3 separate regions of the Homo sapiens genome follow, and all the other regions are linked to region 1. The links come from fine-mapping of genetic effects on gene expression. A gene starts in region 1. Each other region holds a variant in brackets. All regions are shown on one strand. Distances are from middle to middle.

The links. PIP is the estimated chance that this variant, and not a neighbour inherited with it, causes the effect. A credible set is the group of variants that fine-mapping cannot tell apart.
Region 2: its variant is the best candidate, but not a certain one, in a credible set for the expression of TCTN2 in whole blood (TOPMed, PIP 0.68).
Region 3: its variant is the best candidate, but not a certain one, in a credible set for the expression of TCTN2 in whole blood (INTERVAL, PIP 0.67).

What each region holds. Positions count from the first base shown.
Region 1 is chr12:123,665,187-123,676,552 of GRCh38, forward strand. It overlaps TCTN2 (tectonic family member 2), which reads left to right and starts at 5,927. Exons shown (of 18, transcript NM_024809.5): 1 at 5,927-6,136; 2 at 6,321-6,428; 3 at 6,870-6,946; 4 at 8,429-8,624. The coding sequence starts at 6,055.
Region 2 is chr12:123,560,181-123,571,546 of GRCh38, forward strand. No RefSeq gene overlaps it. Among named protein-coding and RNA genes, the nearest start is that of TMED2-DT, 18 kb to the right of the region's middle. The variant G/A (reference allele first, on the strand shown) is at 5,336.
Region 3 is chr12:123,697,410-123,706,241 of GRCh38, forward strand. TCTN2 (tectonic family member 2) reads left to right here. Exons shown (of 18, transcript NM_024809.5): 14 at 2,295-2,401; 15 at 7,123-7,279. Among named protein-coding and RNA genes, the nearest start is that of ATP6V0A2, 11 kb to the right of the region's middle. RefSeq lists a silencer at 2,200-2,375. The variant T/C (reference allele first, on the strand shown) is at 5,968.

The DNA.
Region 1 (11,366 bases):
TAACTTTGGATTTGGTTTACTCTTTTCTAGTTCTTTAAGAAGCATCATTAGGTTGTTTATTTGAAGTTTTTCTACTTTTTTGATAAAGGTACTTACTGCTATAAGGTCTCCTCTTAGTACTGCTTTTGCTGTATTCCATAGGTTTTGGTATGTTTTTCCATTTTCGTGTGTTTCAAGGAGTTTTTAAATTTTCCCTCTTAATGGCCGGGCGCAGTGGCTCGTGCCTATAATCCCAGCACTTCGGGAGGTCGAGGTGGGCGGATCACAAGGTCAAGAAAATGAGACCATCCTGGCCAACATGGTGAAACCCCATCTCTAGTAAAAATACAAAAAATTAGCTGGGCGTGGTAGCGGGTACCTGTAGTCCCAGCTACTCAGGAGGCTGAGGCAGGAGAATTGCTTGAACCCGGGAGGCGGAGGTTGCAGTGAGCTGAGATCGTGTCACTGCACTCCAGCCTGGTGACAGAGCAAGACTCTGTCTCAAAAAAAAAAAAAAAAAAAATCCAACTCTTAATTTCTTCATTGACCTACTGATCATTCAGCAGCATGCTGTTTAATTTCCTTGTGTTTGTATACTTTCCAAAGTTCCTCTTGTTATTGATTTCTGATTTTATTCCATTGTGATCAGAGAAGATGCTTGATCTGGGGCTGGGCATGGTGGCTCATGCCTGTAATCCCTGCACTTTGGGAAACCGGGTGGGTGGATCACCTGAGGTCAGGAGTTCAAGACCAGCCTGCCCAACATGGTGAAACCCTGTCTCTACTAAAAATATAAAGATTAGCTGGGCGTGGTGGTGCACACCTGTAATCCTAGCTACTCAGGAGGCTGAGGCAGGAGAGTCGCTTGAACCTGGGAGGCGGAGGTTGCAGTGAGCCAAGACCGTGCCATTGGACTCCAGCCTGGGGGACAAGAGTGAGACTCCATCTCAAGAAAAAAAAAAAAGAGAGAGATGCTTGTTCTTATTATTATTTTTTTTTTGTAAAGACTTGTGACCTAACATATGATCTATTCTTGACGATGATTCATGTGCTTAGAAGAATGTATTCTATAGCCATTAGATGAAATGTTCCATAAATATCTATTAGGTCCATTTGGTCTATAGTGCAAATTAGGTCTGATGTTTCCTTGTTGATTTTCTGTCTGGATAATCTGTCCAATGCTGAAAGTGGGAGGTTGAAGTCTCCAACTGTTATTGTACTGGGGTCTATCTCTTTCTTTAGCCCTAATAATATTTGCTTTATATATCTGAATGCTTCAGTATTGGCTGCATATATGTTTACAATAGTTATATTCTCTTGCTGAGCCTCTTATTATATAATGACCTTCTTTACCACTTTTTTTTTTTTTTTTTGAGACAGAGTCTCACTCTGTCACCCAGGATGGAGTGCAGTGGCATGATCTCAGCTCATTGCAACCTCCACCTCCCGGGTTCAAGTGATTCTCCCACCTCAGTCTCCCGAGTAGCTGCAATTACAGGCACCTGCCACCACGACCAGCTAATTTTTTTTTTTTTTTTTTTTTAGGCAGAGTCTCGCTCTGTCGCCCAGGCTGGAGTGCAGTGGTGTGTTCTCAGCTCACTGCAAGCTCTGCCTCCCGGGTTCACGCCATTCTCCTGCCTCAGCCTCCCAAGTAGCTGGGACTACAGGCACCTGCCACCATGCCCAGCTAATTTTTTTGTATTTTTAGTAAAGATGAGGTTTCACCATGTTAGCCAGGATGGTCTCAGTTTCCTGACCTCGTGATCCTCCCACCTCGGCCTCCCAAAGTGCTGGGATTACAGGCATGAGCCACCGAGCCCAGCCTAATATTTGTATTTTTAATAGAGATGGGTTTTCGCCATGTTGGCTAGGCTTGTCTTGAACTCCTGACCTCAGATGATCCACTCACCTTGGCCTCCCGAAGTGCTCGGATTGCAGGTGTGAGCCACTGCGCCTGGCCTCTTTTTTTTCTTTTTCTGTGGAGATAGCATCTTGCTGTATTGTCCAGGCTGGTCTTGAACTCCTGGGCTCAAGCAACTCCTGGGTTCCTCTTGCCTCGGCCTCCCAAAGTGTTGGGATTACAGGCATGAGCCATCACACCTAGTCTTAAAATCTATTTTATCTGATATAAGTATATAGCTACTTTTGCTCTTTTTTGGTTTCCATTAGAATATCTTTTTCCATCCCTTTATTTTTAGTCTATGTGTGTCTTTATAGGTGAAGAGTTTTTATAGGCAGCTAATCATTAGGTCTTTTTTTTTTAAATCTATTCAGCCACTCTATGTCTTTTGATTGGAGAGTTTAGTCCATTTACATTCAATGTTATTATTTATAAGTAAGGACTTACTACTGCCATTTTTAAATTTGTTTTCTGATCTTCCCTTCCTCCCTTCCTTCCATCTTCCTTTTTATGAAAGTGATTTTCTCTGGTGGTATGTTTTAATTTCTTGCTTTATATTTTTGTGTATCTGTTGTAGGCTTTTTGATATGAGTTTAGCATGAGGCTTGCAAATACCATCTTATAACCCATTATTTTAAACTGATGACAACTCTGATTGCAAAAACAAGCAGAGAAAACTAATACTCTAACTTCATCCCTCTGATTTTTAACTTTTTGTTTCTACAATATTTATATCTTATTATACTATGTCTTAAAAAGCTGTAGTTATTATTTTTGATAGGTTTGCCTTTTAGTCTACTACTCAAGATATGAATAGTTTACATATTTGTAGAGGTGCCACCTTGGTGATCTTGGGTACGATCTTGGAGAATTCCCTGGATCACCGTTAGCAGTGACGAGTCTGTACAGGTCTGCAGCAACTCGATTCTTGCCTCCTCAGAGGAAAGAATTTGGCCAAGCAGCATAAGGCAGAGTGAGAGACCAAGGCAAAGTTTAAAGCAGGGGTAAACGTTTATTAAAAAGTTTTAGAGCAGGAATGAAAGGAAGTAAAGTACACTTGGAAGAGGGCCAAGCGGGCGACTTGAGAGATTCAAGTGCCCCGTCCGACCCTTCACTGGGGGTTTCTATACATTAGCATGGTTCTGAGGTTTGTGCCCTCCCTTGATTTTTCCTTGGGGTGGGCTGTCTGCATGTCAGTGGCCTGCCAGCACTTGGGAGGGGCCGCATGTGCAGTGTGTTTACTGAAGTTGTGCGCATGCTCATTTGAGGCATTTTCCTTTACCAGTCGAGCCTTCCCAGAGGAAGGTTATATACCAGTTAAAATCTGCCATCTTGCCTCTTACTATGTATGCATGAGCCTGCTTGCCCAACTCCTGAGATCTTATCGGGAAGCTGCTGATCACCAGCTTCAAGTGTTTTCTATCTTTTTTTTTGAGATGAAGTCTCACTCTGTTGCCCAGGCTGGAGTGCAGTAGCGCGATCTCGGCTCACTGCAACATCCGACCCCTGGGTTCAAGCGATTCTCCTGCCTCAGCCTCCCGAGTAGCTGGGAGTACGGGCATGCGCCACCACGCCCAGATAATTTTTGTATTTTTGGGTAGAGATGGGTTTCTCTGTGTTGCCCAGGTTGGTCTTGAACTCCTGGCCTCAAGTGATCCATGTGCCTTTGCCACCCAAAGTGCAGGGATTACAGGCATAAGCCACCAAGCCCGGCCCAGAAATGTTTTCTTTTGGGAGGATTTATCTCTTAATCTTTACCGCTTGGCCTTGCCAACTTAATTTGCAGATTAATTCCCCCCAAAGACAGATGGGGAATAACAGAAATATTTAAGTGTTTGACAGCTTCCTCTTAGTAACGTTCTCCTAGGCTTCATTCCAAGATATCAAGAGAGGTAAACATTTTGCAGTCTTCCAGAGAGGAGCTGAGGTACACGGGAAAAGTTTCATGCTCATGTTACAACTGTAGTGACCCACAGTTTTTCAGGGAGTATAAGAAAAAGATAACACCCAGTGTCAGGCCCTTATAAAGCCTCAACTTTCAGAATCCTTTCACAATGTTAGATTTGCTGATCAATGAATATATAACTGAACATTAAGAGTAATAATGGGGCTGGGTACGGTGGCCCATACCTGTAATCCCAGCACTTTTAGAGGCCAAGGCAGGAGGATCACTTGAGCCCAGGAGTTTGAGACCAGCCTGGGCCACATGGTGAAACCCCGTCTCTATAAAAAATACAAAAATTAGCCGGGTGTGGTGGTGTATTGCCAGTTACTTGGGAGGCTGAGGTGGGAGGATCAGCTGAGCCCAGAAGTTTGAGGATGCAGTGAGCTATGATTGTGCCACTGCACCATTCCAGCCTGGGTGACAGAGTGAGACCCTGTCTCAAAAAGAAAAAAAAAAAAGACTAATAATGGCAAACATTTACTTGGCATTTACCGTCAGTCAGCCACAATGCTGAACACCATGATTGTCTCAGCTAAAGGATACACCACCTCTCTGATAGTTAACAAGTAACTGATCATTAACTGAGTGCTTACTGTATGCCAGCCATTGGTTTAACCTCATTAGATATGTTACCTCATTTCATCCTCACACAATCCCCAAGGAAGGATTATTATCATCCCTTTTTTATAGATGAGGAAGCTGAAACTTAGAGAGGTTGACTTGCCCAAAGTCACTTAACAGCTGAGAATATCTGTGGAGGGAAGGCGAAATCCCATGCCAGGCAGCCTGACCTCAGACCCTGCACTCTCAGTCCCCAAGCCGTGACAATATTTGAAATGTTCTGAGGCTACTGATATAAGAAAAAACAATTTTTTTCCAGACAGAATTTTGATTCTTTCACATCTGTCCTATTGCTGGGCAAAACCTCTTGTGTGTTCTGTGATTGGATCTGCTTTCAGAGTGCTGAGAGCTCTGTGCAGGGGAGAAAATCCTTCAAAAACCTAGGAGAATGATAATAAAAGCAATAGTGATAATAAATGATAATGATAAGAATTATAAAAATATAAATTTTATAAAATTATAACATATAAGTATAAAATTTACAAAATATATACTTATATAAAAGATAAATATATATAAGATAAAATATAAATACATATATATTTTATAAGATAAATAAATAAATAAATATATTTTTGAGACGGAGTCTGGCTCTGTCGCCCAGGTTTGAGTGCAGTGGTGCAATCGCGGCTCACTGCAACCTCCGCCTCCCAGATTCATACAATTCTCCTGCCTCAGCCTCCTGAGTAGCTGGGATAATAGGCGCCTGCCACCACGCCTGGCTAATTTTTTGTATTTTTAGTAGAGACGGGGTTTCACCATGTTGATCAGGCTGGTCTCAGACTCCTGACATTGTGATCCGCCCGCCTCGGCCTCCCAAATTGCTGGGATTACAGGCATGAGCCGCCAGACCCGGCCTATATGTATTTTATATATATCAAGTATGTATATCTGATATATATATATAAAACAAAGTATATCTATTTTGTAAATATATATTTATTTTATAAAAATATAAAATATAAATAATACATCATAAACGATAGTAAAGATAATAAACACAGCGCGGCAGCCCCATCCCCTTTTTCTACTCACCCCTAAAACAAATCCGTATAAAAATCAAGTTTATTAAGGAGCAAGTCCCACCCTTTTTATTTAGAAGCCAGTGTCTATAGGATCGCTCTTGGCTATTGTTGGATTAATTCCAGGGTAGGGGAAAACTCCAGTTTTTGAGCCGGACACGCACTCCTGCTTTTCAGGACCTTTTTAATTTTGATGTTTTCAACTTTTAGGCCCAGGGGTCCATGTACAGGTTGCTATATAGGTAAATTGCGTGTCACGGGGGTTGGGTGCACAGATTGTTTCGTCACCCAGGTACTAAGTGGAGCACCGGATAGGTAGTTTTTCAGCCCTCACTCTCCCCACCAGAGTCAAGCAGCAAAAATGCTAGGCCTTGTGGGCGGGGCCGGGGTGCCCGCTCTTGCCACTGGTCCAATCACAGCGCGGCGTTCCTCCTGGCCGGCCGCCGATTGGTGGTTGCCATAGCTCCGGGCGTTCGCTTGCAAGATGGCGGCGGCGGGGCAGTGGCTGCTGCGTTTTCGTGTCTGAGTCCTTCCTGGGTTCTAATGAGGGCGCGGTTCTGCTGTGCCCGGCCCGCGAGGTCTAAGGCATGGGCTTCCAGCCTCCGGCCGCTCTTCTTTTGAGGCTTTTCCTTCTGCAGGGCATCCTGAGGCTTCTGTGGGGGGACCTGGGTGTGTACGGCGCGGCAGTGACCTCGGTGGGCCGGGGCTGAGGGGACTGGGCGTTAAAAGGGCCAGACTTGGACTCCCCCGGGAGCTTCGGGAGTCGACAACGCCAAAGCAAGCCGCCACACACACCTTAGGCGGTGATTCTTCCACTGCTAACCCCTCCTTGTCCCCTTTCCTTCCCGCCTAGCTTTCATCCCTCCTTTTATCCGAATGTCCGGCCCTGCGGTCAGCGCGTCCCTGGTCGGAGACACCGAGGGTGTGACCGTGTCCCTGGCAGTGCTGCAGGACGAGGCGGGTAAAGTCCGGCCCTCTTTTGGGGAGGGTGGGGGTTGGACTGGATCCAGACCTCCCAAGGAGCCTGGAGAGGTGGCATCCTTGGGGCCCCCTGCCTCTGTTCTCTGCAAAGTCGCATGGGGAGAAAAGGATCGGGCGGCTGCTGTAGGCCAAAGAGGACAGACGGACAGGTTCGAAGAAAGCCTGAAATAATAATGGTTAGCATTCATTGAGCTAACATCGTGCATCATCCCATTTTCCTAGTAAGAACAGTAATATCTTTTCATCCCCTTTGACCAAGGAAGAAACAAGTTCAGAGAGGTTGTCACTGTCCCAGTGTCAAGCAGCTTGTAAAGGGCCCAATCTTAGGCTGTAATGTGAGTCCATCCTAGGCAGTCTGACTCAATGCACCCCCTGAGCTGCTGGACCTTGCTGCCTTTGCATGCTGGTCTTCTTTCTTTAGGAATATTGCCAATTCCGACGTGTGGAGTGCTGAACAATGAGACGGAAGACTGGAGCGTGACTGTGATCCCCGGTGCGGTAAGGCCAGAAGTAAACCTTCTCTGTAGCCTGTGAAGAGGCCCCCAGCTAGGGTTTCTGCAGTGCTCTCTTTATTTAACAAGGCATGGCTTTCTCCATGCTCTCAACAATCATGAAATTGTGGGCTGTTGGATCTGGTAGACACTTATCCAGCCCACGGGTTCCTTACCCTGGGGTTAGGAGTCCTTGGATGTATTTCAGTGGGTCTGTGAACTCTATGAAATTGTATGTAAAGTTCTGTGTGTATGTGCATTTTTCTGATGAGAGGGTCACCAGTTTCCTTTAGATCATCAAATGGGTCAGTGATTCAAAAAAGCTTTATGCCAGGCATCGTGGCTCACGCCTGTACTCATAGCGCTTTGGGAGATTGAGGCGGGAGGATTGCTTGAGCCCAGGAGTTCCAGACCAGCCTGTAACATAGCGAGACCTCGTCTCTACAAAACAATTAAAAAAAAAATTAGGTGGGTGGCGTACACCTACAGTCCCAGATACTTGGAGGGGGGTGGGGTAGCTGAGGCAAGAGGATTATTTGAGCCCAGGAGTTCAGGGCTGCAGAGAGCTATGATCGCACCACTGCACTTCATCCAGCCTGGGCAACAGAGCAAGACCCTGTCTCTTAAAAAAAAAGAAAAAGCTGGTCAGGCGCGGTGGCTCACGCCTGTAATCCTAGCACTTTGGGAGGCCGAGGAGGGCGGATCATCTGAGGTCAGGAGTTCAAGACCAGTCTGGCCAACATGGTGAAACCCATCTCTACTAAAAATACAAAAATTAGCTGGGCGTGATGGCGGGTGCCTGTAATCTCAGCTACTTTGGAGGCTGAGGCAGGAGAATCACTTGAACCCGGGAGGCAGAGATTGCAGTGAGCCGAGATCACGCCACTGCACTCCAGCTTGGGTGATGAGCGAGACTCCGTCTCAAAAAAAAAAGCTTCATAACCACTGATCTTGCCCAACTCTGAGCTTATGTGTAAGGATACTCAAACCTGGAGAGATTAAGCATCTTCTATTTAATAAGTGTTTATTGGATACCTAGTATATGCAACATCAATTCTGGAGAGAAAAGGACAGGAAAGACAAGCTCTGCTTGTACCCCAGGAGTGAACATGTACATGTCTAAAGTCATTCTGGGATAAACTGAGGATTGTTTTCATTGACTTTTTTTGTGTATTTACTCTTCCACTGATAGGATGATAAAGAAACTAAAAAGGTGTACAATAAACTGAGTTTATTTATCAGATCTGTGTTTAGCTTTCTCTAAGTATCCCGAAGTTGTTTGCTTTTATGTTAAGGAAGAAGAATCAGGGCTTGCATGTTACCATAGGTTTATGGGGGGGAACTGAAGATAACTGTGTCATCTCTGTATACATTTCCCTTTTATAAAATGAACGGAGGCTGATGTGTACTTTTATTGTGTTTTCCATTATGTATTCTTATAGACCCTGTTTTGAGTCACTTTAAAAATACAGCAATGTTTTCCTTTCAGAAGGTGTTGGAAGTGACAGTGAGGTGGAAGAGAGGTCTGGACTGGTGTTCCTCCAATGAGACAGATTCCTTCTCAGAGTCCCCCTGTATCCTCCAGACCCTTCTGGTTTCAGCATCTCATAATTCATCCTGTTCAGCACATCTACTCATTCAAGTGGAAATTTATGCCAACTCTTCTCTGACCCATAATGCCTCAGGCAAGTGAAGTCTTTGACTGTCAAAACTTTCATGTTGTTCCCAGCTACTTAGGAGGAAGAGGTAGGAGGATTGCTTGAGCCCGGGAGGTTGATGCTATAAATGAGCTGCCCGGGAGGTTAATGCTACAAATGAGCTGTGATCGCGCCACTGCGTTCCAGCCAGGGTGACAGAGTGGGACCCTGTCTCAAAAAAAACCAAAAACAAAAACAAAAAAAGAAAAATTTGTGTCAAGCTTACCTGTTTGATTATAAGTGTATGCCATGCAATTTGTAAAGTATACTTCACTTGAGTCTGTCTTGCTTTTCTAAACTTATTTTTCTTTTGTTTAGTTTTCTTTTAAGAAATTTCATTTTGTACTATTTTATTTAACATTTATTTGATCTTTCTCTACTGTTTGCATCTTTATAAGCTACCTTGAATCCTTTTTGGGAGAAGGTGAAATTTGTTTATGTACATTGATTCTCTCTCTTTTTTTTTTGAGATGGAGTCTAAGTCTGTCACCAGGCTGGAGTGCAGTGTTGTGATCTCGGCTCACTGCAACCTCCACTTCCTGGGCTTAAGCGATTCTCCTGCCTCAGCCTCCCGAGTAGCTGGGACTACAGGCTCACGCTACCACGCCCAGCTAATTTTGTACTTTTAGTAGAGATGGGGTTTCACCATGTTGGCTGGGATGGTCTTGATCTCCTGACCTTGTGATCCGCCTGCCTCGGCCTCCCAAAGTGCTGGGATTACAGGCGTGAGCCACTGTGCTCGGCACGTGCATTGATTGTCATGACTGCATCTTAAGAAGAAAAAAGGAAGGGTGGCCAGACGCAGTGGCTCCCACACTGTAAGTGCTTTGGGAGGCCAAGGCGGGGGAATTTCTTGAGCCCAGGAGTTCGAGACCAACCTGGGCAACACAGCAGATACTGTCTCTATAAAAAATTTTAAAAAGCTGGGCATGATGGTGCCTGCCTGTAGCCCTAGCTACTAGGGAGGCTGAGGTGGGAGGATCGCTTGAGCGTAGGAGTTTGAGGCTGATGAAGTTTACATCATTTCCAGCTTTTTTTAAAATTTATTTTTATTTTCATTTTTTTTAGAGACACGGTCTCACTCTGTTACCCAGGCTGGAGCTAGAGTGCAGGGGCACGATCCTGGCTTGCTGCAGCCTCAACCTTCCTGGTTCAGGCGATCCTCCTGCCACAGCCTCCATAGTAGCTGGGGCTACTGGCGTGCACCACCACACCTGGCTAGTTTTTACATTTTTTGTAGAGACAGGGTCTCACTATGTTAGCCAGGCTGGTTTTGAACTCCTGGGCCCAGGTGATCCTCCCACCATGGCTTCCTGAAGTACTGGGATTACAGGCAGGAGCCACTGCACCTGGTCTGTTCCCAGCTTTTGATGCTACAGCAAAGATCGTTATGCCCGTGTACATGAATCTTTGGACATGAGAAAATGGTTTTGTGTTCATCTCCGTCTCACATGATGTTAGTGTTCTTAAACCAAAAGAGCTTTCAACTAGATGTGCCGATGTAGAGGGCTCTGCAGTGATGAGTGCTACTGCCATGTCCCCTGTCTCCGGTGGCGAACTCTGACATCTCTTGCCTTTATGGCCACGTGGCATGGAGGGAGAAGCGTTCCAGACTTTAGTAGCAAAAGTCTGTTACCTGGAGACTCCTTTACTGCCGCTTCCCTTATTACATCCCTAACTGTGGTCCTCCTGGTGCTTCTGGAAGTTTAGGATGATAAGACAAGTTTTGACAGCTCCTTTCAGCAGACTACTGTGCCCTCAGTGTACTTGCATGGAAAGGCCTCCATGATGAATGAAGTGAAAAAAGCAAGTGCAGATGGCTGCCTACAGTGTGCTATCTTTTGCATAAAGGAGGCAGAAATGAAAACATTTGCATAAAGAAATTCTGGAAGGATGTTGGAGAAGCTAATAATGTGCTACCAAGTTGGAGGATGATGTGGGAACAGGAAAGGGCTGACAGTGAGGAATTTTTTAATATGCTTTTGATTTTTTGGAACCATGCAAATGTGTTACCCACTTAAAAGTTTTAAATTTTTCTATGGCTTAAAATTCAAAACAAAGCCAAAAAAACCGTATTCAATGATGAAAAAAAAAATCCCCCCAAAACAACAGAAGGGATTCATGATAGCTGTACCATTCAAAGCACTGACTTTTTTCCTTTGAGAAATATGCTTGAGGCCAGGTGGTGGCTCATGCCTGTAATCCCAACACTTTTAGAGGCTGAGGTGAGTGGGCCACTTGAGCCTAGGAGTTCAAGACCAGCCTGGGCAACATGGCAAAACCCTGTCTCTACAAACAAATACTACAATTAGCTGTGCGTGGTAGTCGGTGCCTGTAGCCCCAGCTATGAGGGAGGCTGAGGTCGGGGGATCGCTTGAGCCCAGGAGGTGGAGGCTGCAGTGAGCCAGGATTGCTCCATGTACTCCAGCCTGGTCGACAGAGCAAGACCTTGTCTCTAAAAAAAGACCGGGCGCGGTGGCTCACGCCTGTAATCCCAGCACTTTGGGAGGCTGAGGTGGGCGGATCACGAGGTCAGGAGATCGAGACCATTCTGGCTAACACGGTGAAACCCCGTCTCTACTAAAAATACAAAAAATTAGCCGGGTATGGTGGCGGGTGCCTGGAGTCCCAGCTACTCGAGAGGCTGAGGCAGGAGAATGGCGTGAACTCGGGAGGTGGAGCTTGCAGTGAGCCAAGGTCACACCACTGCACTCCAGCCTGGGTGACAGA
Region 2 (11,366 bases), 110 kb before region 1:
ACTCTGTCTCCCAGGCTGGGGTGTGGTGGTGATCATGACTCTGCAGCTTCAAAGTCCTGGGTTCAAGCGATCCTCCTGCCTCAGCCTCCTGAGTAGCTGGGACTACAGGCACGTGCCACCACACCCAACTAATTTTTAGATTTTTTGTAGAGACAGGGTCTCGCTTTGTTGCCCAGGTTGGGCTCAAACTCCTGGGGTCAAGCGATCCTCCTGCTTCGGCTTCCCAAAGTGCTGGGATTACCGGCAGGAGCTACCGCGCCTGGCCAGGGGACTCTCATGAGCACCAACATTTCTCAGGAGTCTGAGCAGTCATCAGGCCACCTGCCTTACCTGTCCTGTCCCAGGGCTAGATTACAAGGCCTGGCAATCTGAAATAGCTGCCCACCCACACACTTCTTCGTGACTTTCCACAGTTGCTGCTGCGGCTCTTCGTTTATTCTCTTCCATCTCCTCCTCCTTTTCCTCCTTCACTTTGACAGTCTTGGGGGGGTCATGACTAATTTTGATGTCCTCATTGCATTGTGTTTTTTTGTTTTTTGTTTTTTTTCAGACAGAGTCTCACTCTGTCACCTAGGCTGGAGTGCAGTGGCACAATCTCAGCTCACTGCAACCTCCACCTCTGGGGTTCAAGTGCTTCTCCTGCCTCAGCCTCCCGAGCAGCTGGGATTACTGGCACGCACCACCATGCCCAGCTAATTTTTGTATTTTTAGTAGAGATGGGGTTTCACCATGTTGGCCAGGCTGGTCTCGAACTCCTAACCTCAAGTGATCCACCCGCCTTGGCCTCCTAAGATGCTGGGATTCAGGCGTGAGCCACCATGCCTGGCTGCATTGTTTTTTAATTTTTAAAAATTTTTCATAGGGACAGGGTCTCACTATGTTGCCCAGACTGGTCTGGAACTCCAGGGCTCAAGCAATCCTTCTGCCTTAGCCTCCCAAAGTGCTGGGATTACAAGCGTGAGCAACCGCACTCGGCCATCACGGCATCTTTAAGCACCAGAAATGTCATTTAGCACTCACGGTCTGTTCTGCACTGCCTTCTCCTTAGTTGCCAGACCCCATCCCCAAGGACACTGTATGAGAGATATGATCAGACTCCCCAAAACCCATCTTGGGAAACAAGAAACTTAGCAACTGGATTTTACCTGCATTGGGCACACTTGCTGAATTTCAATGTCTGCTTCTTTCTGAAGAGAGATTACCAGTAAATGCTAATGCTACATTTGTGTAGATTTTTCCATAACAGTTGCATTAACCTGGTTAATGCAACCTGTGCTTCTGTGCTTCAAGAATCTCATCCCTTAATGGTTGAGTTCTTCTTTTCTTTTTTAAGACAGGGTCTGGCTCTGTCACTCAGGCGGAAGTGCAGTGGTGCAGCGGTCTGATTTTTTCTCACTGCAACCACTTCTTGGGCTCAATCCATCCTCCTCACCTCAGCCTCCTGAGTAGCTGGGACTACAGGCTCATGCTACCACACCCAGATAATTTTTGTATTTTTAGGAGAGACGGGGTTTCACCATTTTGCCCAGGCCGGTATCGAACTTGTGAGTTCAAGTGAGCTATCCGCCTCAACCTGCCAAACTGCTGGGATTACAGGCGTGAGCCACCACGCCAGGCCAATGGTTGAGTTCTTAATTTAAACAAATATTGGCCAGGTGCAGTGGCTCACGCCTGCAATCCCAGCATTTTGGGAGGCCGAGGTGGGCAGATCACTTGAGGTCAGGAGTTCAAGACCACCCTGGCCAGCATGGCGAAACCCCGTCTCTATTAAAGATACAAAAATTAGCCAGACATGGTGGTGGGCGCCTGTAGTTTCCGCTACTTGGGAGGCTGAGGGAGGACAATTGCTTGAACCTTGGAGGCAGAGGATGCAGTGAGTCGAGTTTGAGCCACTGCACTCCAGCCTGGGCGACAGAGAGAGACTAAGTAAGTAAGTTAGTAAATAAATATATATATATATTTTTATATATAAATAAATAAGTAAATAAATATATATATAAAATATATAAAGAAAAATATAAATATATATAAATATATATAAAATAAGTAAGTAAATAAATAGATAAATATATACTTATTTTTTGAGACAGAGTCTCGCTCTGTTGCCTAGGCTGGAGTACAGTGGCACGTGATCTCCGCTCACTATAACCTCTGCCTCCTGAGTTCAAGCGTTTCTTCTGCCTCAGCCTCCCAAGTAGCTGGGATTACAGTTGCCCACCACCACGCCTGGCTAATTTTTGTATTTTTCTTAGAGACGGGGTTTCACCATGTTGGCCAGGCTGGTCTCGAACTCCTGACCTCAAGTGATCTGCCCGCCTCGGCCTCCAAAAGTGCTGGGTGTGAGCCATTGCACCTGGCCAAGAAAAAACATTTAAAGAGAAATATTTAAAAAGTAGAAATCACCCATGGCTTTGTTTTGGTTCCCTAGAAAACAGGGCCTGAGGTGAAGATTAGGAGCTAATGCTTTATTGGAGAGGAGAATGCCAGGGAGGTGAGGGTGAGGGAGAAAGGGAAGGAGGCACAAAAGGAGGGGGAGCAGGCCGGGCGCGGTGGCTCATGCCTGTAATCCCAGCACTTTGGGAGGCTAAGGCAGATGGATCACGAGGTCAGGAGATCGAGACCATCCTGACCAACATGGTGAAACCTTGTCTCTACTAAAAATAAAAACAATTAGCCGGGTGTGGTGGTGGGCGCCTGTAGTCCCACTTACTTGGGAGGCTGAGGCAGGAGAATCCCTTGAACCTGGGAGTCAGAGGTTGCAGTGAGCTGAGATCACATCACTGCACTCCAGCCTGGGCAACAGAGAGAGACTCCGTCTCAAAAAAAAAAAAAAAAAAAAGGAGGTAGTGTAAGTTCATGACAGAGCATCCCAGAGGCAGCCCCAACTTCACACCAGCACTCAGCCAGTTGCTGGTCTTCTGGGGTGTCTCTGGAGAGGATGTAGGAAAGCAGTGAATCTCAGAATGTTCTGTTAGTGCAGAGTGTAGCAATGGGAAGTGTGTGGTGGGTATGGGGAGGGAGGTGAACAATTTATCCGCCAGCTCCTTCACGTCCTCATTTGTTTTCCCCCTGGGGCATTAGCCTCCCCCCATTTGCAGGTGGAGCCCCTCTTGGGGGGTGTCGGTCTTGGATGCAGAGGTGGCTGCAATTCTTTGCCCCTGACCTTCAGAGACAATCGGAAATGTTAGGAGCTGAAATGACTGTGGCACTGGGCAGAGCTTTATAACCATGGAACAGTGTGAGCCGTCGCTGATGCTGTCTGCGCCAGAGAGAAAGGTAAGTATGTGATTTCTGGGGGTGGGGGGCACAGGTGGGATGAATGGATTCGGATTTGCCATTTCCATAATCCAACATGAGAAAAATTATGTATTTAAGCTGGGTGTGGTGGTGCACACCAGTAGTCCCAGCTACTCTAGAGGCTGAGGTGAGAGGAACACTTGAACCCAGGAGTTTGAGGCTGCAGTGAGCTGTAATCAGGCCACTGCACTCCAGCCTGGGTGACAGAGGGAGACCCTGTCTAAAAACAAAAAGAAAGGCATGGTGGCTCGCGCCTGTAATTCCAGCACTTTGGGAGGCCAAGGCGGGAGAATCACCTGAGCCCAGGAGTTTGAGACCAGCCTGAGCAATATTGTGAGACCCCGTCTCTACAAAAGATACAAAAATTAGCTGGGCATGGTGGTGTGCACCTGTAATCCCAGCTACTTGGGAGGCTGAGGCAGGAGGATCGCTTGAGCCCAGGAAATCGAGGCTGCACTGAGCTGTGATTGTGCTACTGTACTCCAGCTTGGGAGACACAGGCTGGAGTGAAAACAGAGAAAAAATAATGTATTTAAAAGAAATCCCTCCCATCTAATTTCTACTCCTAGGTAACTACTGTTGACAGTTTGGTCCATGCTTTTCCTGATAATATAAATATTTGCATATCTGTACACACTGTATGTCTAAACATACACTTAGTTTTAAAATGGAAACACGACATACAAACATACAAAAAAAGCAGTTTGCTTTTTTCACTTAATAATACCCTATAATCATTTTTCCAGCTCAGCACATATAGATCTACCTTATTTTTTAAAAATAGATAATTCCTGTTTCATTCTTTTATTTTTTATTTTTTTTTATTTTGAGACAGAGTTTCACTCTTGTTGCCCAGGCTGGAGTGTAGTGGTGCAATCTTGGCTCACTGCAACCTCTGCCTCATAGGTTCAAGTGATTCTTGTGCCTCGGCCTCCCAAGTAGCTGGGACTACAGGCAGGTGCCACCACAGGCAGCTAATTTTTTTTTTTTTTTTTGAGATGGAGTCTTGCTCTGTCACCCACGCTGGAGTGCAGTGGCGCGATCTCGGCCCACTGCAACCTCTGCCTCCCGGGTTCAAGCGATTCTCCTGCCTCAGCCTCCCGAGTAGCTGGGATTACAGGCTCCCGCCACCGCGCCCAGCTAACGGGGTTTCACCATATTGCCCAGGCTGATCTCGAACTCCCTACCTCAGGTGATCCACCTGCCTCGGCCTCCCAAAGTGCTGGAATTACAAGCATGAGCCACCATGCCTGGCCTAATTTTGTATTTTATTAGAGATGGGGTTTCACCATGTTGTCCAGGCTGGTCTCAAACTCTTGACCTCAGGTGATCTGCCCACTTCATCATTCTTTTAAATGATTGTGCAGTCTTTTGTTTTATGTATGTACTGCAATTTGCTTGATCATTGTTCCCTTGGTGGTCATTCACTCTGTTTTCTGGTTTGGACTATTTTAAACAATGTTGCATTGCAAGTTTACACTTAATTTTTGGTCCCCTCAACTTCATGAAAAGTGGCCAAAACATGTTACCTACTCATCTGCCCAGTGCTTTGGTTCCTGCCTATAAATTGGCCACAGGGGAGAAAGGCTAAAGGCAACAGCTCACCGCCGCTGAGACGAAAGCCCAGAGCATGCTGGGGGCCCCACCCGCAGCCATGCATCTTTGTTGTTTTTTTTTTGAAACGGAGTCTCCCTCTGTCACCCAGGCTGGAGTGCAGTGGCGCGATCTCGGCTCTCTGCAAGCTCTGCCTCCCGGGTTCCCGCCATTCTCTTGTCTCAGCCTCCCGAGTAGCTGGGACTACAGGCGCCCACTACCACGCTCGGCTAATTTTTTGTATTTTTAGTAGAGACGGGGTTTCACCGTGTTAGCCAGGATGGTCTTGATCTCCTGACCTCGTGATCCGCCTGCCTCGGCCTCCCAAAGTGCTGGGATTACAGGCGTGAGCCACTGCGCCTGGCGCATCTTTGTTTAAAAAAATTTTTTTTTGAGATGGACTCTCGCTCTGTCTCCCAGGCTGGAGTGCAGTGGCACGATCTGG[G/A]CCCATTGCAACCTCCACCTCCTGGGTTCAAGTGATTCTCCTGCCTCAGCCTCCCGAGTAGCTGGGATTACAGGCATGCGCCACCACACCTGGCCAATTTTTGTATTTTTAGTAGCTATGGGGTTTCGCCATGTTGGCCAGGCTGGTCTTGAACTCCTGACCTCAGGTGATTCGCCCACCTCGGCCTCCCGAGATGCTGGGATTGTAGGCGTGAGCCATCGTGACTGGCCCCACACTAGCCCTTTTTCAGTTTTCCAACTTGTCAATGTCAGTACCCTCATACAATGCTAGTAGGAGTGCAATTGGTCAAACCACTTTGGAAAACTGGTGTGAAAGTTGTCAGAATCAAAATGGAGTCATCTGTGTTACAAAACAAAAACCAAAATCACCTTGACGAGCAGAGCCAGGGAAGCTGATGAAGGGAGGATTCTCATGCACGAATGCCAGATAACAAAAACTATCACAAAAGCCTGCAAAACCCACAACCTTGCACAAAGGCCATCACAATCTTACATTAAAAATACTCGTTCGAAGACATCTGCCCAGCAACTGCCTATCTAAACTTGGACTGGTGCACTTTTATTATTGATCTTTGTAGCCAAAGATAATTATCTCAAAACAATTATGTAGTTCTCCTCATTTTTCCTTTAAAAACCTTTGTCTTCCTTTATTTCCTTGAATACACATACACTTTAGTATGGCACACATATTCCCATTGCAACGTCCTATTCCTGAATAAATATCATCTTCTTTTAGAAAGACTCTCTGTCACGGAGATCGAGACCATCCTGGCTAACACAGTGAAACCCCGTCTCTACTAAAAATACAAAAAATTAGCAGGGTGTGGTGGTGGGCGCCTGTAATCGCAGCTACTCGGGAGGCTGAGGCAGGAGAATGGCGTTAACCTGGGAGGCAGAGCTTGCAGTGAGCCGAGATCGCACCACTGTACTCCAGCCTGGGCTACAGAGCAAGACTCCGTCTCAAAAAAAAAAAAAAAAAAAATTAAGCCTCTCTGTTACTTAGGTTGACACTGGCAGTATCTACTAAGTCTAAGCATACACCTCCCCTATCACCCTGCAATTCTGTTGCTAGGTTTAAACCCAGCAGAAATCAGAAAATAATGCGCACAACAACTTTGCTCAAAATCATCCAAAACAGGAAATAAGGGGAATGTCCATCAGCAATAGAATGGATAAATAAATTCTTACAGCGAAATGTTATGCAGCAATGAAAAGTAACAAGCAATTCCCAATGCAACAGTAGGAATGACTCTCACAGCTATAACATTGTGAGAAATTAATCAGGCACAAAGGAGTCCACACTGTATGGCTCCTTTTGTATGAAATTTCTGAACAGGCAAAACTAAGTTCAAGGGATTGAAAGCAGAGTAGTGGTTGCCTGGTAGGAGGTGGGAGTGGGGACTGACTGCAAGGAGGCACAAGGAAGCTTTTCTAGAGTGAAGGAAATGATTCTATCTTGATTGGAATTCTGGTTACACACCTGTATTTTTTGTTTTTGTTGTTGTTGTTTTGAGGTGGAGTCTTGCTCTGTCTCCCAGGCTGGAGTGCCGTAGTGTGATCTCAGCTCACTGCAGCCTCCACCTCCCGGGCGATTCTCCTGCCTCAGCCTCCCAAGTGGCTGGGATTACAGGTGCCTGCAACCGCACCTGGTTAATTTTTGTATTTTTAGTAGAGACAGAGTTTCTCCATGTTGGCCAGGCTGGTCTCGAACTCCTGACCTCAAGTGATCCACCCACCTCGGCCTCCCAAAGTGCTGGGATTACAGGCATGAGCCACCATGCCTGGCCATACACATGTATTTCTTAAAATGCAGTTAATCTGGCTGGGTGTGTTGGTTCATGCCTGTAATCCTAGCACTTTGGGAGGCCAAGGCGGGTGGATCATTTGAGGTCAGGAATTTGAGACCAGCCTGGGCAACATGGTGAAACCCCGTCTCTACTAAAAATACAAAAAAAAAAAAAGAAAAAAAAATTAGCTGGATGTGATGCTGCACGCCTGTGGTCCCAGCAACTTGAGAGGCTGAGATGGAAGGATCTCCTGAGCCCAGGAGGTTGCAGTGAGCCAAGATGGTGCCACTGCACTCCAGCTTGGGCAACAGAGGGAGACGTCATCTCAACAAAATAAAAAAAAATTAAAAAAAAATTAGCTGGACATGTTGGCGCATGCCTGTAATCCCAGCTACCTGGGAGGCTGAGGCCAGAGAATCACTTGAACCCAGGAGGCGGAGGTTGCAGTGAGTTGAGATGGCGCCACTGCACTCCAGTCTGGGTGACAGAGTGAGACTCTGTCTCAGGAAAAAAAAAAAAAGAAAAAGAAATCTTTTCTTATTATACTTCAATTTTATCTTCACGTTCTGGACTATCCTTTTCTTTTCACTTTAATTTCCTAAATCTTTCTTTAAGTATTGTTTCTCCCTCTTCACTAATATTCTCTCCCGTGGATCCAATAATCAAGAATGCCCCCTTCCAGAGGTTGCAGTGAACCAAGATGGTGGCACTGCACTTCAGCCTGGGCAACAGAGAGAGACTCCGTCTCAAAAAAAAAAAAAAAAAAAAAACCAGGCTGGATGTGGTGGCTCACACCTGTAATCCCAGCACTTTGGGAGGCCAAGGCAGGCAGATCACAAGGTCAGGAGTTCGAGACCAGCCTGGCTAATATGGCAAAACCCCATCTCTATTAAAAATACAAAAATTAGCCGAGCGTGGTGGCACATGCCTGTAATTCCAGCTACTCAGGAGGCTGAGGCAGAAGACTTGCTTGAACCCGGGAGGCGTAGGTTGTGGTGAGCTGAGATCACTGGAGCCACTGCAAGCCAGCCTCAGTGACAGAGTGAGACTCCGTTAAAAAAAATAAATAAATAAAGGAATAACCCCCTTGCCTGGGTGAAGTGGCTTGCACCTGTAATCTTAACACTTTGGGAGATGGAGGCGGGAGGATCACTTGAGCCCAGGAGGTCAAGACCAGCCTAGGCAACGTAGGGACATCCTATCTCCACACACACAAAAATAGAAAATTATCTGGGCATGATGGCTTGCACCCATAATCCCAGCTACTCAGGAGGCTGAGGTGGGAGGATAGCTTGAGCCTGGGAGGTTGAAGCTGCAGTGAGCTGTGATCATGGCACTGAACTCCAGCCTGGGCAACAGAGTGAGACCCTGTCTCAAAAAAATTAATAATAATAATATTATTATTAATAATAATAAAGAGTGCCCTCCCTTCAATACTCCTGTAGCATTCTCTCTGTCTCTCTCTTTTTCTTTTTTTTTTTTTTGGGACGTTGTCTTGCTCTTGTTGCCCAGGCTGGAGTGCAGTGGTGTGATCTTGGCTCACCGCAACCTCTGCCTCCCAAGTTCAAGTGATTCTCGTGCCTCAGCCTCCTGAGCAGCTGGGATTACAGACGCACACACCATGCCCGGCTACCAGGCTGGTCTTGAACTCCTGATCTCAGGTGATTCGCCTGCCTTGGCCTCCCAAAGTGCTGGGATTACAGGCATAAGCCCCCGGGCCTCGCCCTCCTGTAGCATTTTCTATCTGGATTACACCATTCAGTCTGTGTTCGTTACTTCCCGACTCCGAGCCCATCCCAGAGGCCTGGGGATCCTGCGAACCTTCCTTTACCTTCAGTAAATGTCTCACATTTAGACCTTTCACTGTTACAGACAGTTACAGACTCCCCACTGTTGACATTGAAAGAAAGTAGTGATGTTACCTTTAAATCTGTGTTCCCTTACCAGACCATACTGCCCATGAATTAACATTTTCCAGAAATCCCATAATTATCTTGTGACTACCACAGTTACACTGTATTGCATTTTAGTGTTAAAAGTGTTAATTTAGGCTGGGCATGGCTCATACCTGTAGTCCTAGCACTTTGGGAGGCTGAAGCAGGTGGATTGCTTGAGCTCAGGAGTTCAAGACCAGCCTGGGCAACATGGCAAAACCTTGCTAGAATAGAATGGAATGGAATAGAATAGAATAGAATAGAATAGAGTAGAGTAGAGTAGAGTAGAGTAGAGTAGAGTAGAGTAGAGTAGGTTAATTTAATCAGATTCCAATTGATGGTAATTTAATTGTTTCCATTTTTTTAGTTGTCATAAAAAATGCTGCTATGGGCCAGGTGTAAGTAGCTCATTCCTATAATCCTAGCACTTTGGGAAGCCAGGGTGGAGGATTGCTTGAGCCCAGGATTTCGAGGCTGCAGTGGACTATGATTTCACCACTGCACTCCAGCCGGGTGACAGAGTGAGACTCTGTCTCTTAAAAAAAAAAATGCTGTGTGGGGGCGGTGGCTCACGCCTGTAATCCCAACACTTTGGGATGCCAAGGCAGGTGGATCACCTGAGGTCAGGAGTTGGAGACCAGCCTGGCCAATGTGGTAAAACCCCATCTCTACTATTAATACAAAAATTAGCCAGGCATGGTGACACATGCCTGTAATCCCAGCTACTCTGGAGGCTGAGGCAGGAGAATCGCTTGAACCCGGGAGGCGGACGTTGCAGTGAGCCGAGATCACGCCATTGCACTCCAGCCTGGGTGACAAGAGTGAAACTCCATCTTGGAAAAAAAAAAAAATGCTGCTATGAACCTTCCTGCCCATATACCTTTGGGCATATTTTACTGTATTTCTTTGTAATAGATTCCTAGAATAATGGAACTTGCTGGTTAAAATCTTAATAGATATTATCTAAAAGCCTCCAAAATGATTTCTAATGCATTCCCCCACCAATTGGGTATGAAAGTACCTGTTTCCCCCGTTCCCATCACTGGATATTATTAGAGATTTAAGTTCTTGCCAATTACATGGGTGAAGAAATGTGATTTCTTTTCCTTCTTCTTCTCCTCCTCCTCCTCCTTCTTCTTCTTTTCTTTTTTTCTTCTTTCTTCTTTTCATAGAGACAGGGTTTCACTGTGTTGCCGAGGCTGATCACGAACTCTGGGACTCATGCAATCTGCCTGCCTTGGCCTCCCAAAGTGCCAGGATTACAGGCATGAGTCACCGCTCCCAGCCAGTGCTGATGTTTCCTGTCACCTGCAGAGTTTTAACAGAAAGTCATTTCTTTGATGTGTCGCACATCCACACATCTTAATTTCATGTTATATGTATCTGTAACTGGATCTAATTTTTTTCTTTTCTTTTTTTTTTTTTGGAGACAGGGTCTCATTCTATCACCCAGGCTGGAGTGCAGTGGCATGATCACGCGTCACTGCAGCCTTGAGCTCCCCAGCTCAAGCAATCCTCCCGCCTCAGCCTCTCTAGTAGCTCAGACTATAGACACGCACCACCACATCTGGCTAATTTGTGTTTTTGCAGAGACAAAGACTCGTCATGTTGCCCAGGCTGGTCTCAAACTCCTGTGCTCAAGCAATCCACCTGTCTTGGCCTCCCAAAGTGCTGGGATTACAGGTGTGAGCCACTATGCCTGGGCTTTTTTTTTTTTTCTTTTTTTGAGACAGGGTCTCATTCTGTGGCCCAGGCTGGAGTGCAATGGCACAAACACAGCTCACTGCAGACTCAACCTCCCAGACTCAAGCAATTCCCCTATTTCAGTGGCTCAGAGGCCCCCACACTCAGCCTCCTAAGTAGCTGGGATCACAGGCACTCGCCACCACGCCCAGCTAATTTTTGTATTTTTTGTAGAGACAGGGTTTCACTATGTTGCCCAGACTTGTTTCAGACTCCTGGGCTCAAGCGATTCTCCCACCTTGGCCTCGCAAAGCGCTGGGATTATAGGCATGAGCCACCGCTCCCAGCCACCATCTTCCATTTTAAGAGATTCTATTCCCTTTCTTATAAATCCTGAGTGGTTCTATTCCCCTAAACTGTAGCTCTTTCCTCCTGAGCACATGCTGGACTCCATTTCCCAGCCTCCTTTGCTGCTACGGACAGTCATGTGATTGAGTTCTGATCAGTGGAATGTGGGCAGATGGAATACGCACCACTTCTAGGTCTGGCCCCCGCCCAAAAAACTCTTACATGATCTTCTACTCTCTTTCATTCCTCACTTGCCAGA
Region 3 (8,832 bases), 31 kb after region 1:
TTCATCCACATTTAAGCAAATTTCATCCACATTTAAACAAATGTCTCTGCCAAAGTTTGTTCAGCTCATTGGAACCTTTTTTGTTGTTGTTGTGTGGTTTTTTTTGTTGAGATGAAGTCTCACTTTGTCACCTAGGCTGGAGTGCAGTGGTGCGATCTCGGCTCATTGCAGCTTCTGCCTCTCCGGTTCAAGCAATTCTCCTGCCTTAGCCTCCCTAGCAGCTGGGATTACAGGCATGCACCACCACGCCTGCTGATTTTTTTTGTATTTTTAGTAGAGATGGGGTTTCACAATGTTGGTCTCAAACTCCTAACCTCAAGTGACCTTGCCCACCTTGGCCTCCCAAAGTGCTGGGATTATAGGCGTAAGCCACCGCGCCTGGCCTCATTGGAACCTTATACTCCTAGAGCTATGAAAAAGGCCAGAGCAAAGTGTAACTGGGGTGATTAACTTTTTTTTTTTTTTTTTTGAGACAGGGTCTCACTGTGTTTCCCAGGCTCGGGTGCAGTGGTGCAATCATGGCTTACTGCAGCCCCAACCTCCCCAGGCTCAGGTGGTCCTCCACCTGCCTTGGCTTCCTAAAGTGCTGGGATTACAGGCATGAGTCACTCTGCTGGCCTATGTTCTGTTTTTGTTTTTGTTTTTGTTTTGAGACAGAGTTTCACTCTTGTTGCCCAGGCTGGAGTGCAATGGCATAATCTCAGCTCACTGCAGCCTCTGCCTCCCAGGTTCAAGTGATTCTCCTGCCTCAGCCTCCTGAGTAGCTGGGATTACAGGCATGTGCCACCTCACCTGGCTAATTTTGTATTTTTAGTAGAGATGGGGTTTCTCCATGTTAGTCAGGCTGGTCTTGAACTCCTGACCTCAGGTGATCTGCCCTCCTCAGCCTCCTAAAGTGCTGGGATTACAGGTGTGAGCCACTGTGCCCAGCCTTGTTTTTTGTTTTTTTGTTTTTGTTTTTTTTTTTGACAGTAGCCATCCTAATAGATACTAAGTGGTATCTCATTGTGGTTTTGATTGCATGCGTTCTTTTTGGCTTGTTTTTTGAGACAAGGTCTCACTCCATCACCCAGACTGGAGCGCAGTGGTGTGATCACGGCTCGTTGCAGCCTGACCCTCTTGAGCTCAGGTGATCCTCCCACTTCACCCTCCCGAGTATCTTGGAGTACAGGTGTGTGCCTGGCTGATTTTTCGTATTTTTTGTAGAGATGGGGTTTCACCGTGTTGCTCAGGCTGCTCTCAAACTGCTGGGCTCAAACGATCCTCCTGCCTTGGCCTCCCAAAGTGCTGGGGTTACAAGCATGAACCATTATGCCCGGCCTGCATGCACTCTTACACACGTTTTATCTGTTACATATCCCAAGATGTGTAGTTCTTTGGGAAGCAGGAAGAAATGGGGGTAACATTGAGAAGTTAAGGAAAACTGGTATAAATTATTGGCAGCAGCTCCTGATTATAGGTTTTGAGGCCTGAGTCCATGGGCAGAGTCCCTCTCCTGCAGTTCATGAGATTTGTACCCTCCAGTGACAGTACTGGGAAGGAGGGAATGCTACGTTCCAACTCTTAGTCTTCACTTAATTTTATGACTCAAAATTCCAGCTAGATATATAGGTTACTTTTACTGTTGGATCACTCTGGCCCACGAATGTATCCTGCTAACTTGATGTGTGCTCTAACTACCTCCTAAGTTTGGTGACAGTCGGCAGAGTTTGTGAACCATGTGATTCCCAACTTAAGTTACTAACATTTTTTTTTTTTTTTTGAGACAGGATCTTGCTCTGTCACCCAGGCTGGAGTGCAGTGGTACGATCTCAGCTCACTGTAGCCTTAACCCCACCAGGCTTATGCGCTCCTCCCACCTCAGCCTCCCAAGTAGTTGGAACTATAGGTGCATACCACCATGCCTGGCTAATTTTTGTATTTTTTGTAGAGGCAGGGTTTTGCCCTGTTGCCCAGGCTGGTCTTGAACTCCTGAGCTCAAGCAATCCTCCCACCTCAGCCTCCCAAAGGGTTGGGATTACAGGTGTGAGCCACTGCACCCGGCCAAGTTACTAACATTTTAAGTCTAAAGTAAAAGATTGCTTCTGTATGTTCTCCCCCAGGTGTGTGGGTCCATCCTGGGAAGGCCATCAGACACACCTAGTCCATGGGTGACACCCAGCCAGTTTTTAATGCCAGTTCCTCTGGCAGTTTTTAATTTAGGCACTCGGAAGTGAAACCCGGACATTCACTGGAAATGACTTTAGGACAAGACCTGCTGGCCATGAGCTGAGAAATGTCTTACTCTCTTGCAGGGAGAATGCTGTTGAAAGACTTGATTCATTAATACAAGCGACTCACGTTGCAATGAGAGGCAACTCCGATTACGCTGATCTTAGTGATGGCTGGCTCGAAATAATACGTAAGTCAAACCCGGGTACAATAAAGCCTGTAACTTGGTTGCTGTGACTACCAACTGTAGTCGCAGCATTAGAGCCCAACCCAGTAGGTCATCTTCCTGAGGCTTGACTGCGGCTTAACTGGACGTTTGCCCAGGGGTTAGATCTCCAGGCAGGAAACTTGGCATGTCTTTTTCTTCTTATTCACAATGACTTTTTTGATTTTCTGTTTTTGTTTTTTTGAGACAGGGTTTCATTCTGTCACCCAGGCTGGAGTGCAGTGGTGCAATCACAGCTCATTGCCTCCTCATCCTCCCAGGCTCAAGGGATCCTCCCGCCTCAGCCTTCCAAGTAGCTGGAACCACAGGTGTGCGCCACCACATCTGGCTAATTTTTTTATTATTTGTAGAAATGGGTTTCGCCATGTTGCCCAGGCTGGTCATTAACTCCTGGGCTTAAGTGATCTGCCCACCCCAACCTCTTAAACCCCAACCATGTTGGGATTACAGGCATGAGCCATTGCGCCTGGCCAACAACAGTCTTTGTGAAAGAAAGTCTAGGCTGGGAGCAGTGGCTCACACTTATAATCCCAGCACTTTGGGAGGTCAATGCAAGAGGATTGCTTGAGGCCAGTTTTTTTGTTTGTTTGGTTGGTTTTTTTTGAGACGGAGTCTTGCTCTTGTCACCCATGCTGGAGTGCAATGGCACAATCTCGGCTCACTGCAACCTCTGCCTCCTAGGTTCAGGTGATTCTCCTGCCTTAGCCTCCCAAGTAGCTGGGATTACAGGCGCCCACCACCACCTGGCTAATTTTTGTATTTTTTAAATAGAGACGGGGTTTCACCATGTTGGCCAGGCTGGTCTCGAACTCCTGACCCCGTGATCCACCTGCCTCGGCCTCCCAAAGTGCTGGGATTATAGGCGTTAGCCACCGTGCCAGGCCGAGGCCAGGAGTTTAAGACCAGCCTGGGCAACATAGTGAGACCTTGTCTCTATGAAAAATTTAAAAAATTAGTCGAATGTGGTGGCATGTCCCTGCAGTCCCAGCTACTTGGGATGCTGAGGAAAGAGGATCGCTGGAGCCTAGGAGTTTGAGGCTACAGTGAGCTCTGATTACACCATCACACTCCAACCTGGATGACAGAGCAAGATCCTGACTCTAAAAATAAAACAAAATAAAATAAAATACATTAAAACAAAGTCCAAGCAAGGTTTGAAGATTGTTAGTGCACTTCAGTTTGCATTGCTGTTTTTGATTGCCAGGAATACAGGCATTTGAGAATTGACTTTGTAATTTATAAAGGTAATTTTGTTAACTTAAAAGAAAATAAAGTGATTGAAAATATTGTGATAGAAGCCAGACACAAAAGACCACATATTGTATGACTCAATTTATATGCAATGTCCAGAATGGGCAATGTATAGAGACAGCAGATTAGTGGATGCCGGAGGTGGAGGAGTTGGGAGGAAATGGGGAGAGACTGCCGTGGGTAAAGGATTTCTTCGCAGAGTGATAAAATGTTCTAAAATAGAATCTGCTGATAGTCACAGCTTTGTGACTATACCAGAAACCATCGAATTGCACACTTTAAGTAGGTGGATTGTATAGTATGTGAATTATATCTCAATAAAGCTGTCAGGAAAGAAAGTAATTAAGGTGCAACAGATCGGCTGGGCACGGTGGCTCATATCTGTAATCCCAGCACTTTGGGAGGCCGAGGCGGGTGGATCACGAGGTCAGGAGATCGAGAGCATCCTGCCTAACACAGGTGAAACCCCGTCTCTACTAAAAATAAAAAAAAAAAATTAGCCGGGCGTGGTGGTGGGCGCCTGTAGTCCCAGCTACTCGGGAGGCTGAGGCAGGAGAATGGTAGGAACCCGGGAGGCGGAGCTTGCTGTGAGCCGAGATTGCGCCACTGCACTCCAGCCTGGGCGACAGAGCAAGACTCCGTCTCACAAAAAAAAAAAAAGGGTGCAACAGATCTAATAATAGCAGGGATCATGGGGGCCAGATAGAAAGACTTGACAGCTCAGTGCCTCTGGCCAAAGGTATTTGCAGTGTTGAATTGGCAAGTAGCTCGTACACAAAGGGAAAAAGATATACCACATGTACATGGAATAAAGGTAAACCAGACTTTAAAGCTTCTTCATCAGGCCTGATTTCACCTCTGAATCCAAAATATCCTTTGAGTCATGGAGATCCAGCTCATCGGGTTATGTTGGAGAGGCCTAAGGTCACAGTGAGTTTTGGCAGAGCTAGAATGAAAACCTGGGGTTCCAACCTCTTTCCTCTGTTCCCTGGTAGCAAGTTAGGTAACTTCCCGGTTTCTTGGGGAGCCTTGAGTCTGTAAATACTTTGAATGGAAAGCTTTTTTTATTGAGCTAATTAATGGAATTGCCTTTTGGGACCAGAAAGAGCCCAATGAGTGTGCGCATCTGCTTTGCCCCTGCCCAGCTCTCCCTGCAGATGCTGCTCTGCCCCTCTCCTCTGCCTGGTGGGTAGGGATCAGCCCTCTGGATCCTGTCCCTACCCTTTCCATCTCCTCTGAGGTCAGCTAGGCTCAGTAGGCTGGAATTCACACAACGGCCCATACAGACACACACCTGTATTGTGCCTACTCCTTGTGATTGGGGTCATGGTGATGAGGACCCTCCCTTCCCCCTCTTGGTCATGGATAATGTGATATGTCTGTGAGCTTGAGGTGCCCCAGACCACTCTCTGACTTGGGGAGGGAGTCCTGTTGGACTCCACCCCCACGGGGCACTCAGGCTGCTGTTTGCTCATCTAGCTGGTGCTCAAGGCACTGGGCCCAGACCTAGATCCTCATTTGCAAACGGAACCCAGAGGTCGAGCTTGTCAAGCCCTGGGCTCTGCCACCCAGGCCAGCTAGATAGGCTGTGGAATGACCCTGAGGGCTGGAGAAAAGTCAGCAGTTGGGAAATAAACGGTAGGGAAAATGTCCAGACGGAGAACCCAGGTTGATGAGGTACGAAATCAGTGTGGTGATGACATTTTGTTGCCTTCAAGGTGGAAGGGGTTAGCTTTTATTTCATGTCTGAGCCAAAAAGCAACCTTGATCCTGGTTAATAAGCAGAAGAGAAGTGGTGTTGACACATGTATAAGGAAATTAGACATAAAACAGTGTTACTGACCTTCGGAATCCCTGAAGGAGCAAAGAACCCCCTTCAGAGGAGCCATAGAACCTACCCTACTTCCTCCAATTGACCTTGCTGGGTTTTCTCCAAGACGAATGCAAATTCATTTCTCATTCAATTTCATTCTCTTCCAATTGTATTAATACTATGGTAACACATTAGGAAATTACTTACCTATCTAATACATACTAATTAAAGTCGTTAGTGTGGATTTTGTTTTATTATTATTTTTTTTTCAATTATTATCATTATTTTTTTTTTGAGATGGAGTCTCACTTTGTTGCTGGAGTGCAGTGGCATGATCTCGGCTCACTGCAACCTCCACCTCCCAGGTTTCAAGTGATTCTCCTGCCTCAGCCTCCCAAGTAGCTGGGATTACAGGTGTGCGCCACCATACCTGGCCAATTTTTGTATTTTTAGTAGAGACAGGGTT[T/C]CACCATGTTGGCCAGGCTGGTCTCGAACTCCTGACCTCAGGTCATCCACCCACCTCAGCCTCCCAAAGTGTTGGGATTACAGGCGTGAGCCACCACGCCCGACTGATTTTTATTTTTATTTTTTGAGATGAGGTTCTCACTTTTGTCCAGGCTGGAATGTAGTGGTGCCATGCCATCACGGCTTACTGCAGCCTTGACTTCCCAGGCTGAAGCAATCCTCTCACCTCAGCCTTCTGGGTAGCTGGTGTGTGCTACAGGTGTGTGCCACCATGACTGGCTATTTTATTTTTCTCGAGGAGACAGGGTTTTGCTATGTTGCCCAGGCTGGTCTCAAACTCCTGGGCTCAAGCAGTGCTTCTACCTTGACCTCCCAAAGTGCTAGGATTATAGGCATGAGCCACTGTGCCTGGCCTAAAGTTGTTAGTATGGATTTTAAATGTCTTACACAGCTTTTACTAGAACTGTGACTGCATGGAATAACGATGGCATTTCACTGCAATTATATATGTTTCTGTTAAAAGGCTGGGTAGATTTCAGTGGGAGCTTGGAAACTGAATCATGATTTATGGCTTTAATATGTGGGTCAGGGCTTTTAAGTTCCAGTGACTGGCTAACATACAAGGAAACTTTTTTTTTTTTTTTTTTTTTGAGACAGAGTCTCCCTCTGTCGCCAGGCTGCAGTGCAGTGGTGTGATCTTGGCTCACGGCAAGCTCCGCCTCCCAGGTTCACGCCATTCTCCTGCCTCAGCCTCCCAAGTAACTGGGACTACAGGCGAGCACCACCACGCCCAGCTAATTTTTATACTTTTAGTAGAGATGGGGTTTCACCATGTTGGCCAGAATGGTCTCGATCTCTTGACCTCGTGATCTGCCCGCCTCAGCCTCCCAAAGTGCTGGGATTACGGCGTTAGCCACCGCACCCGGCCCATACAAGGAAACATTTTAAACACAATTTTTATTAGTGCCATCCTATGCCTTGTAGACTTTAAGGGATAACACAGTTATGGAGTGACAAGTAACTAGAGCCTGTAAGAGACTAAAGCCTCATTAATGTGATGCCTGCCTGATATTATTCCCCATTTTGGTTATTACGACATTGTAGGAAAACTTATCAAATTATTCTTTGAAAAGTGTATAACTTAACATTTCTATAGGTGTAGATGCCCCTGATCCAGGTGCAGACCCGCTGGCTAGCAGTGTGAACGGCATGTGCCTGGATATTCCTGCTCACCTGAGCATCCGCATCCTCATCTCGGATGCTGGCGCGGTGGAAGGGATTACTCAGCAGGAGATACTCGGTGTAGAGACAAGGTATGATCACATCTTGGATCACCGTAGTTTAGAGAGAGTCAGGAAAGTTGAGAGCATCCCAAACAATAGGGAAATGTTTATTTAGAAACTGATTGTTTATTTACAACTTGCAATTATTAGCAAGATGTTTATATGCACATATGGAATATGTACGAACTATGTGTATAATGGAGACTTATTCTCACAAGTATTTATAAAGCCATATGTAAGAGAGTCTGCAAGTTATTTTAGGGAGTACAAAGATGAATAAAGGGCCCCTTAGTACTAAGTATATTTTGAAATCCATGGATGTAACTGATAATCTGATCAGAGAATATTGTCTGTGGTTAGAGACTTTGGCAGCAGATAGGTTCAAATCATGGCTGTCCTACTTAGGAGCTGTGTGACACTGGCCAATTACTTAACCTTTCTGAGCTGTAGTTTCCTCCTCTGTAATATGGTGATAATACCTTTATGTATCAAGCCTCCATCAGTTTTTTTTTTTTTTTTTTTTGAGACAGAGTCTTGCTCCGTCTCCAGGCTGGAGTGCAGTGGCAATATCTTGACTCACTGCAACCTCCAACTCTCTAGTTCAAGCGATTCTCCTGCTTCAGCCTCCCGAGTAGCTGGGATTACAGGCACGTGCCACCATGTCCAGCTAATTTTTGTATTTTTAGTAAAGACAGGGTTTCACCCTGTTGGCCAGGATGGTCTCAATCTCCTGACCTCATGATCCGCCCGCCTCGGCCTCCCAAAGTGCTGGGATTACAGGCATGAGCCACCGCGCCCAGCCTGCCTCCATCGGTTTTAAGTGACAGGCGCCCAGTTCATACTGACTTAAGCAAAAAGGGGAGTTTATTGGTTCAAGTTCAGAGTAATCCACATACAGCTAGTTCATGGTTCATGGTTCCAGTGTGGTCAGGGATCTTTTTGTTTTCGTATCTCAGCTCCTCTTCCTTTGGGTTGGCTTCATTCTCAGGGAGGTTCTCCTCAAGAGATGGCAAAGATCAGCACCAGCAATCCAGGCTTATGTCACTGCAGCAAGTCCAGTGGGGAGAAAGCCCCTTTCCTCCTCTTTCCTTTCTTTCTTTCTTTTTTTTTTTTTTGAGACGGAGTTTTGCTCTTGTTGCCCAGGCTGGAGTGCAGTGGTGCCATCTTGGCTCACTGCAACCTCCACCAACCGGGTTCAAGCGATTCTCCTGCCTCAGCCTCCTAAGTAGCTGAGGTTACAAGCATGTGGCACCTCGCCTGGCTAATTTTGTATTTTTAGTAGAGATGGGGTTTCTCCATGTTGGTCAGGCTGGTCTTGAACTCCCAACCTGAGGTGATCTGCCTGCCTCAGCCTCCCAAAGTGCTGGGATTACAGGCATGAGTCACCGTGCCCGGCCCCTCCTCTTTCTCAAAATAGATCTGGGCAGACTTTTATTGGTTCAGTTTAGGTCATGTGCTCCTTTCTGAACCAATCCCTATGACTGGGGCAATGGACAGCTCTTATTGGCTAGGCTCAGGTGATGGGTGCACCTCTGGATTAGGGCCAATTCCTTCTGCTCCACTGAACTGGAAATGGAGAGTGG